Regions from separate parts of the Homo sapiens genome. Here region 2 is reported to be linked to region 1. Evidence: microRNA targets listed by miRTarBase, many of them from high-throughput screens and not tested one by one. Region 1 holds a microRNA gene; the other region holds the end of a gene's coding sequence.

Region 1 (4,407 bases):
ATTCTTTTCTTTCCTCCTTTTTCCTCCCCGGTTAAATGGGAATGTCGATAACGGTTACCCATGCTTGTCCCACCATTGTATTTTGGAAGAAGATAACTTGTTTTCTAGTTTCACAGGTTCACAGATAGAAATTTTGCCTCATCCTGGTCCATATCCAGAGTCTCATTTATACCTGATTTAGATAATTTATATGATGATGAGATTTTGGACTTTTGAATTGAAAATATATAAATGAGAGTTGAGACTTGATTTCATGCTGCTATGGGTTGAGACTTTGAGGATGTTGGGATTGGGTTAATGTATTTTGCAGATGGGATGGATGTGAATCCTTGGGAACCAGAGGATGGCCTGTAATAGGCTGAACAATTTAACAATGCCCCTCCTCAAAGATATCACATCCAAATTCCTGGAACCTGTAAATGTTATCTTACTTACAAGAGAAAAGGGTATTTGCAAATATAATTAAGTTAAAAATCTTAAGATGGAGAGATTTTTCTGCATTATGTGGGTGAGCCCCAAACGCTATAATGAATGCATCGTTAAAAGAGAGAGGCAGAGGGAGATTTAACACAAAGAGAAGAGAGAAGGTGATGTGATGACCTCAACAGAAAGAGAGAAATTTGAAGATGCTATGCTCTATCTTTGATGATGGCCAGAGGAGCCATGAGTGAAGGCGTACAAGAGGGGTCTTGCCACTGAAAAAAATAAGAAATGCCAGCATCCACCAGAAGCCAGAAGCGGCAAGGAATGGATTCTCTCCTGGAGCCTCTGAAAATGAACATGGTACTGTCACACTTCGTTTTCAGCCTACTGATAGTGATTCCCGACTGCTGACTTCTAGAACTGTGAATCAATTGCTATTATTTTAAGCCATTAACTTTGTGGTAATTTATTACAGCAGCCACAAGAAACTAATACCTTTGGTTTTTCAGCGTTTCCTATTTTACTACTGTGAGGGGGCTTATAGATTGCAAATGATGGAGCAAACAGCAGTGTTTCTCAGATCACTAGAAGTCTGCAGCAATAGGCTTAGTATTCACATTATAAGATTGTTATAAAATTGTTCTAATTTTGTATTTGCCTTCCCTTTGGTTTCTAACATCATCATTTTACATTATCTTAACTTTTTTTAAATTTCAGAGAGATCCAAACATTGGTTAAAACTTAGCTAACACTAAGGGTGCATATAGTTGAAACTGTTGGAGCTGTTTACTACAGCACTTTCTATGCCCTTCTAGTTCTGACTTCTAACCCTGATCTAGAGCCACGATGATGTATTTCCCTCACCTTCTTTGGTCACAGAAGGAGGACATTTCACCCAGATCTGCGGCCTAATCACAGGCCACATTTCTGAATAGGCCACGGATCTGGGCAAAATGTCCTCTTTTCTCAGGAGCTCCCCAAACAATAAATCAGTAAATCATATGAATTTTTGCATGAAGTTTTATGAATAGTGGCTTTCTTCTGGGAATACCTCCCTTTTTTAACTTCCTCTGATTTTTTTCTGGACTATGTATCAATTTTTTTCTTTAATGTTTCTTCTCTCTTTATGCTGATTATCATCTCTTTAAACTTACCCAACTCACAGAAAGCTACAAATTTTTGCACTTCCCCATCCCACATGCCTATAGCAGAGTCAACAAACCATGTGAGCAGCAGAAAACTCATGTCCTATTTAAAGAACACGCTGCTTTCTGAAATGAACATGGCAACTAATCTGCCAATTAATTATTTGTCAATAATGAAACTGCAGCCACATTGGCTTTTGACGTGATTGTAATATTCCAATATTATACTAAAATTTCATGTTCTGGGAGCCCTGACAACTTTCAGTTAGATGAGCTCTAATTAGAAGTTTCTAGTGCTCAGTACTTTCCACTATGAACTAGCAACTACACATAGAGATCTACAATCTGATCTTTCATCATGAAACTTGAGATATAAGTACCTTGATGCTTCAACAGAGCTAAACCAAGGCTCCACCTCTTCCTAATCATGCTCCAACCAGTATTTTTTTTTAACTTAATGCCTTTTATTCATTCAACAGCTTGCTTTGCAGAGCTCACAGCTGTAACAGATGTGTCCTATGGTAAGCTCTTCCACAGTAACTGTAGCCTGTTGGTCATGAGCTTCCATTTGTTGAACTCTACATTGTGACTGACAAACTTGGCTGCACCTTAAAATTACCTGAAGAGCTTTTAAAACTTGCTGTCAATTAAATCAAATTCTCTGAGAGTGGGACCTAATGCTCAGTGTGTTTTTTAAAGCTCCCAGTTTATTTCAGTGTGTGGCTAAAGAACCACAACACAATATCCTAAACTTCTCATTACTGATCATTCTTTCTTCAATGTTCTTTTTCTTTATTCATCATCACTTAACATTTCCTCTAAGGCTTTATTAGCATAGTTCTATAATTCCTTAGAGTTAAAGAAAATTCAGATATTTTTACATCATTGAAAGCTAAAACTTTGTTACTTACATAAGTGCTTAAAAGGCATGCAATGCCCATAAATTCTGTGTTAGATTCAAAATAGTTAACCTTATTTTATACATTATAGAAATTCTAAGGTTAATTTTTTAAAAATTAGGTCTTAAAATGCTTACATTTACAAATCTGATCAATAGTTGCAACCTCTTGTTACTGTTTGCTTTTATAAATTGACCATTAGATGCTTGTGCTCATGAGTTGACACATTGAAATTATGCAAGGTTGAATTTTGAAAAATCTCTGTCACCATATTTAATGGTTCAAGGGAATGAAAGGATTCTAGTTACATAGGCCTAAAGGACATAATGAAATTTAAAATTTGTTTCCCTTAGAAAAGATTAAGATATATTTTCTTAAAAGATATTAAGAAAGGTATTCTTCCATATCCTAAGTTCCCTTAGTAAGTTTCCATGATTAGCATCAATTGTTGAAGTGAAGTTAATTTATGTGTGTCTTACCGAATTTACTGTGGATAAAGGATGACTCAAATAAGTATACACTTGGCCATCTGTTTTTGCAAGTTCTGCATCCACAGATTCAACCCACCATTGATTTAAAAAATCCAAAAATAAAAATAAAAAATCAAAATCAAAATCAAAAAACAATACACTACAACTATTCATTAAGCATTTACATTGCATTAGGTATTATAAGTAACCTAGAGATGATTTAAAGTATCTGTATATAGGTTATACGAAAATACTATATCATTTTATGTAAGAGACTTGAGCATTCGTAGATTTTGGTAACCACGGAGGTCCTGGAACCTTCCATAGATACCAAGGGATGACTGTAATTACTTGGAACCAGCCCTGACCATGATCAGTATACTCATTTACCAATTCGCTTCCATTTGATACTATACATTCACAGGACCATGCAGAGGAGGGCAGGGCTAGCATTTACAAATCAGTCTTTTCCAACTCTTCCAAAGAGATGATGTGTTTCCCAGACTTCCCATTTCCCGATGACTTCCCCAACTTTATGCACAACAGCAAGATCCAGGAATATATCATTGCATTTGCCAAAGAAAAGAACCTCCTGAAGTACATACAATTTAAGGTAAGATGTTATCAACAATTTAGCTCTTGTCATAATGCTGAAGAAGTCTATGTCTACTACTGGATTCTCATTTGTTCCTTTCAGTTTCCCTTTCTAATTTGTCAACATTTTTAACAGTGTGGCCTCTCTAACTCTAGGTTTAGAGAATTACCTTCTTCTCAAGGATACATAGAAAATTCACAAAATTTGACCACCTACAGTTCTTAGACTAAATCACTACTAATTTAGAAATCAATACCAAAGAAATAAATATAAAATACCTGTGAATTTGGAAATTAAAAACTCTTTTTATCTAAATAACATATAGGTCAAAGAAGAAATTTCAATGGGAATTTAAAAATATCTATAACTGAATGTTAATTTAGTCTATGTATCAATACTTGTGGGAAACATAGGAAGCTATATTTTCATGAAAATTATAAATGTAAATGTTTATATTAGAAAATGAAAAAGTTTAAAAATAAGGTAAGAAAGTTTAAAAAAATTAGTAAAAGAAAGACAGAATAAACTCAAAGAACATAGAATGAAGGGGATATAAAATAAATTTATAAAATGTAAAAAAGCATATGTACAAATTGAAAGTTAATTATTTGAAAGGACTAATAAAATAAACAACAGGAGCCAAGTGCAATGGCCCATCTTATAGTCCCAACACTTTGGGAGGACAAGGCAGGCAGATTGCTTGAGTCCAGGAGTTGGAAACTAGCCTGGGTGACATGGAGAAACCATGTCTCTACAAAAAATACAAAAATTAGCTGGATGTGGTGGCACATGCCTGTGGTCCCAGCTACTAGGGAGGTTGAGGTGGGAGGATTGCTTGAGCTCGGGAGGTAGAGGTTGCAGTGAGCTGAGATCAC
Region 2 (4,407 bases), not on the chromosome of region 1:
ACAGCAACATGGGTGAAGCTGGAGGTCATTATCCTAAGCAAATTAATGCAGGAACAGAAAACCAAATGCCACAAGTTCTCACTTATAAGTGGGAACTAAACATTAGGTACACATGGACACAATGAAGGGAACAATAGACACTAGGGCCTACTTGAGGGTGAAGGGTGGGAGGAGGGTGAGGATCGAAAATCTACCTATTGTGTATTATGCTTATTACATGAATGATGAAATAATCTGTACACCAAATGCCCACAACATGCAATTTACCCATGTAACAAACCTTTATTATTTTGTCTTCCACTTGTTTTCTACCTCCTTCTATTTTAATTGAATATTTTGTATGATTTGATTTTTTTCCTATTTTAGTATATCAATTCTACCTCTTTTTTACCCTTGAATTTACAGGATACATTTACAATGAATCCAATCCTTTCTCAAATAACCCTATACCACTTGCTTCTTTGGTAGTACAAGTATTTTGTAACAGGGTATTCCCAATTCCTCCCTCCGATTCCTTACAACATTGCTGCTATTCATTTCACTTATCAATAAGCTATAATTTCTGAATACACTGTTATTGTTTTGAACAAACTATTATCTGTTAGGTAATTAAGAAAAATAAAAGATTTTATTTTACCTTCATTTATTCCTTTTCTATTGCTTTCCCTTTGTTTACGTAGGCCAGAATTTCTGACCTGTATAATTTTCATCCTTTCTAAAGAATTTCTTTTAACATTAAAAAAAAGAGCAGCTCTAGAGATGACAAATTCCCACAATTTTTGTTTGTCTGAAAAAGTCCATTTCTCTTTCACTTTTGGAGGACAATTTCACTGGATACAGAACTGTAGTCAGCGGTTGTTATGGTCTGATGTTGCATCCCCCAAATTTCATATGTTGCAATCCTAACCCCTAGTGTGATCGTATTAGAAGACAGGACCTTTGGGTGGTAATTAGGTCATGAGGGTGAAGCCCTCATGAATGAGATTAGTGATCATAAGAAGAGACGTGGGATGATCTCTCCCTACCATGCGAGGATACAACAAGAAGGCCACCTGCAAACCAAGATGACTGCCCTCACTGGACACTGGATCTGTTGACATCTTGATCTTGGACTTCCCAGCCTCAGAACTGAGATAAATTTCTATTGTTTCATTAAGCAGCCTAGTTTATGGTATTTTGTTACAGCAGCCTGAGCTGAGACAGTGGTTCTTTAAACCCTTTAAATGTTTCACTCCACTCTCTTCTTTCTTGCATGGTTTCTGAAGAGATGTCTGATGTAATTCTTATCCCTGCTTATCTATACATAAGGTGTTTTTTTCAAGATTTTTTCTTGGTCTTTGATTTTTTTGGTATTTATCATTCCTGGTATTCTGTGAGCTTTCTGGATCTGTGGTTTGGTGTCGTTCATTTTGAGAAATTCTCCGTCATTACTGCTTCAATATTTCTTGTGTTCCTTTTTTTCCTTTACTTCCAGTAGTCCCATTACACGTTACATACCTTTTAAAATTGTCCTGCAGTTTTTGGATATTCTGAATTTTTCATTCTTTTTTGCTCTGCATTTAAGTTTTGCTAGTTTCTATTGACATTGTTTTAAGCATACTGACTCTTTCCTCAGTTGTGTCTTACCTGTTGGGTAGTCCATCATCATTCATTCTGTTACAGTGTTTTTGATTTCTAGCATTTTTTTTTTGTTTCTTAGTTCCCATCTCTCTGCTTATATTACCCATCTGTTCTTGCATTGTCCAATTTTCCCATTAGAACTGTCAGCATATTCATCGTAGTTGTTTTAAATTTCTATGGAAATATATGGAAGGTTTGCCAGAGAAGGCAGCAGTTGAGTTGAATCTTAAAGAAGTAGGGGCTGCCAGGTGGAGGAGATGCTGGGCTGAGAGAATAAATAGCTTTTATGAGAGAGTGGCATGCTCAGAAAACTGAAAGTATTGTAGCATAGTGAGGAAGTGGACTGCCAATCCTCTTACTTTGGGTAAAGCATCTTATATTTGTATCAAATACAAGGAGTGCAATTATGGACCAAGGTAAAATTGTTTAGGTAATATCTGTGCATCCCTAAATCTTCCAGGAAACTGGTTTATCACCTTTTTTGGTCATCCACAAAGACAATACATTCCAGAGTTTACAATTTCAAACTCTTAGGCAGTCGAAGATTCAAATGACATTTCACTGAATTAAAAATATTTTCCCAGAGTTTAGGCTTTTGTCCTGATCTTTGTGGAGAAGGGCCAATGGAATTTTGAGAACTCTTACTCCATCCTGAAGTCAGCTACAATAAATGCTATGATCCGGAACATTAACCTCTGGCTTTCCCAAGCCCGAGCACCTACCTGGCAGAGGGCATCCCAAAAGCAAGTAGACTTCTGCTCTTGCCCAAGATAATCACTAAGGATGAGAATTTTATACCAAAAGTTGGGGTACTCTTTGAGAACCAGGATACTTGCCTTCAAAGCACCATCTAATGTATTTAGAAGATAGCTATTTCCCACCAGACATTAAAGATTCCTGAGGAAATCTATGGTCATGGTCCTTTAAAACATAATAGTTACTCTTTTAACAGTGCAGTGGGCTCTCCTTGGAAACTCTTTAGCTACTAGAAATACTGTTGAGAGTAGACCACTCAACCCCAGATCTTCATAGTTCCACCCAGCTGTAATTAGGCTGTGGCCTGTATTTTTAATGTACCTCTCCTACCTGACCCTTCTTATGCTTAGCCTCATCCTCTAATGGATGCCATTGTTGACCTATGACTCAAGGCTGCTTGATTCTGTTTTCTGACTTACTACATGCATCTTGACTCTTCTGCCTGACATACTTGCTCCTCTGTGTGTCCTTCACAAATCCCTCCCAGTGCTCACTGCCTTATGAATGACAAACTGAGGTGCTGGACTTATTCCAGTGTTCACATGAATAAATGGCTGGAGATGTAAACCAATTCGCTGTAAAGGAAACTGTACATCTTTACACCTTTGCTACATTTTGAGAAATAAAATGATTATTTTAAACCACAGTCTATGCATTTCAGTGCCATGTTGTGCCACACTTTTGCTTTGTGCAACTGGCAACTTTTAATATACAGTATTTTTTCTAATCATTGGAAGTGCACAACTTAACACTTTATCTTATTCTGTAATCATTTTATTCAGGTATGTTTTATCTGTACAATTATGTGGTAATCTCCTAGTAGAGAGAAATGGTTCCTAGCACACTAATGATATAACAGAAAATCAGGAAATGATGTTTGTTGACTAATTGATTAAAGTGTCTAGTAGGGAGGTTAAAATCAGTGACATATTATATGTCATTCCTACTTTGAGTTCTTAAGTTTTTTTGGTGTCGAATGTGTAAGTAGTTTTGGAAGAAATCAAAACTTCAGAGATTTTTTTCCATGCTGATAAAAACTAAATATAAATATCTGCTTTAATATTTTTCCATATTTTCTCTGGATTTCTTTTTAAATCTCTGAAAGATGTTCCCACTACAGAAGATGGGATATCTAAAATTTTTAGTTTATGCATATGCATGTGTAAGGGGAGAGATAGGGAAAGGGGAAGGGGAGGGCTTTCCTTTTTTTCTTTTTACTACATAAGCATATGTTATCCTTCATTCACAGTTCTCAGAGCAGTATAAAGCTAGATTAACTCTCCCTTTGGAACTTCAGATATAAGGTGGGTTGTCCATCATTCTTATTGGCCTGCTCATCCTTATTTTTAGTTAGATGGAGGGCTGTATGCTTAGAGCTTTGCTGGTTAGTTTCTTCAGCTTGAAGACTCTTATATTTTAGAACATTTGCATCCATTCCAAAGCTTGAAGAAGCAGTCTCCCACTTGCTGCTGAGAGGTTTTATGTCTTCATTCTTTATGGCCCAGATTTGAGAATGTTTATTCTTCTTGGGGCCTTTGAGAGGTGATAAACTTTCCAATGACCTGTGGGGCTTAGACTGGACCCATTCTGAAGAGTTTGCCATAACATCCCCTTGGATTACAAAAGGGTGATTTCTGGGTGCTGTCCAAGATGTGCTGTATTTCTTTATATTTCTGCAAGTAGCCGGATTTAGTCTAGAAAAGAAATGAAATACGTGAATTTTTGTCCATCATGGACCTACTTTGTAGTCCTAGGTATGTTGTCATAGTATAAATAATATTTTTCCTTTTAGTAAGTTCATAACTTCTTAAAGTTTAAGAATTTTACCATCATTTAGAAGTCTTCATCTCTGATCATGATTTTTTTTTTAGCACTATTCCAATCCTGTATTTCTAAATGCCTAGAGGATATGTTTATTTGGATACCTACTCTAACCTCAGCCTTCCTAATATAATAGCCACTCTGGGCCCCAGCTCCTTACCTATATATCTAGTTAAAGTAGATGGTCACTAAAAAGTAAAGTAGTTGTTT

The links. The annotated mature microRNA hsa-miR-1295b-3p reads AAUAGGCCACGGAUCUGGGCAA and lies in region 1 at 1,354-1,375, shown strand. An mRNA with a match to its seed (bases 2 to 7 or 8) in the 3' UTR can be bound and repressed. Matches are read on the target gene's strand: a 7mer-m8 pairs with bases 2 to 8, a 7mer-A1 pairs with bases 2 to 7 and ends in A, and an 8mer does both.
Region 2: the mRNA of AGBL3 is a reported target of hsa-miR-1295b-3p. The part of its 3' UTR that is shown has no 7-base or 8-base seed match.

Annotation. Positions count from the first base shown.
Region 1 is chr1:171,100,424-171,104,830 of GRCh38, forward strand. It overlaps MIR1295B (microRNA 1295b), which reads left to right and starts at 1,316; the gene lies at 1,316-1,375. It overlaps FMO3 (flavin containing dimethylaniline monoxygenase 3), which reads left to right. Exons shown (of 9, transcript NM_001002294.3): 3 at 3,362-3,550. MIR1295A (microRNA 1295a) reads right to left here and starts at 1,383; the gene lies at 1,305-1,383.
Region 2 is chr7:135,134,504-135,138,910 of GRCh38, reverse strand. It overlaps AGBL3 (AGBL carboxypeptidase 3), which reads right to left. Exons shown (of 17, transcript NM_178563.4): 17 at 3,133-4,070. The coding sequence ends at 3,650. It also overlaps a transcript of CYREN not described here. Among named protein-coding and RNA genes, the nearest start is that of TMEM140, 11 kb to the left of the region's middle.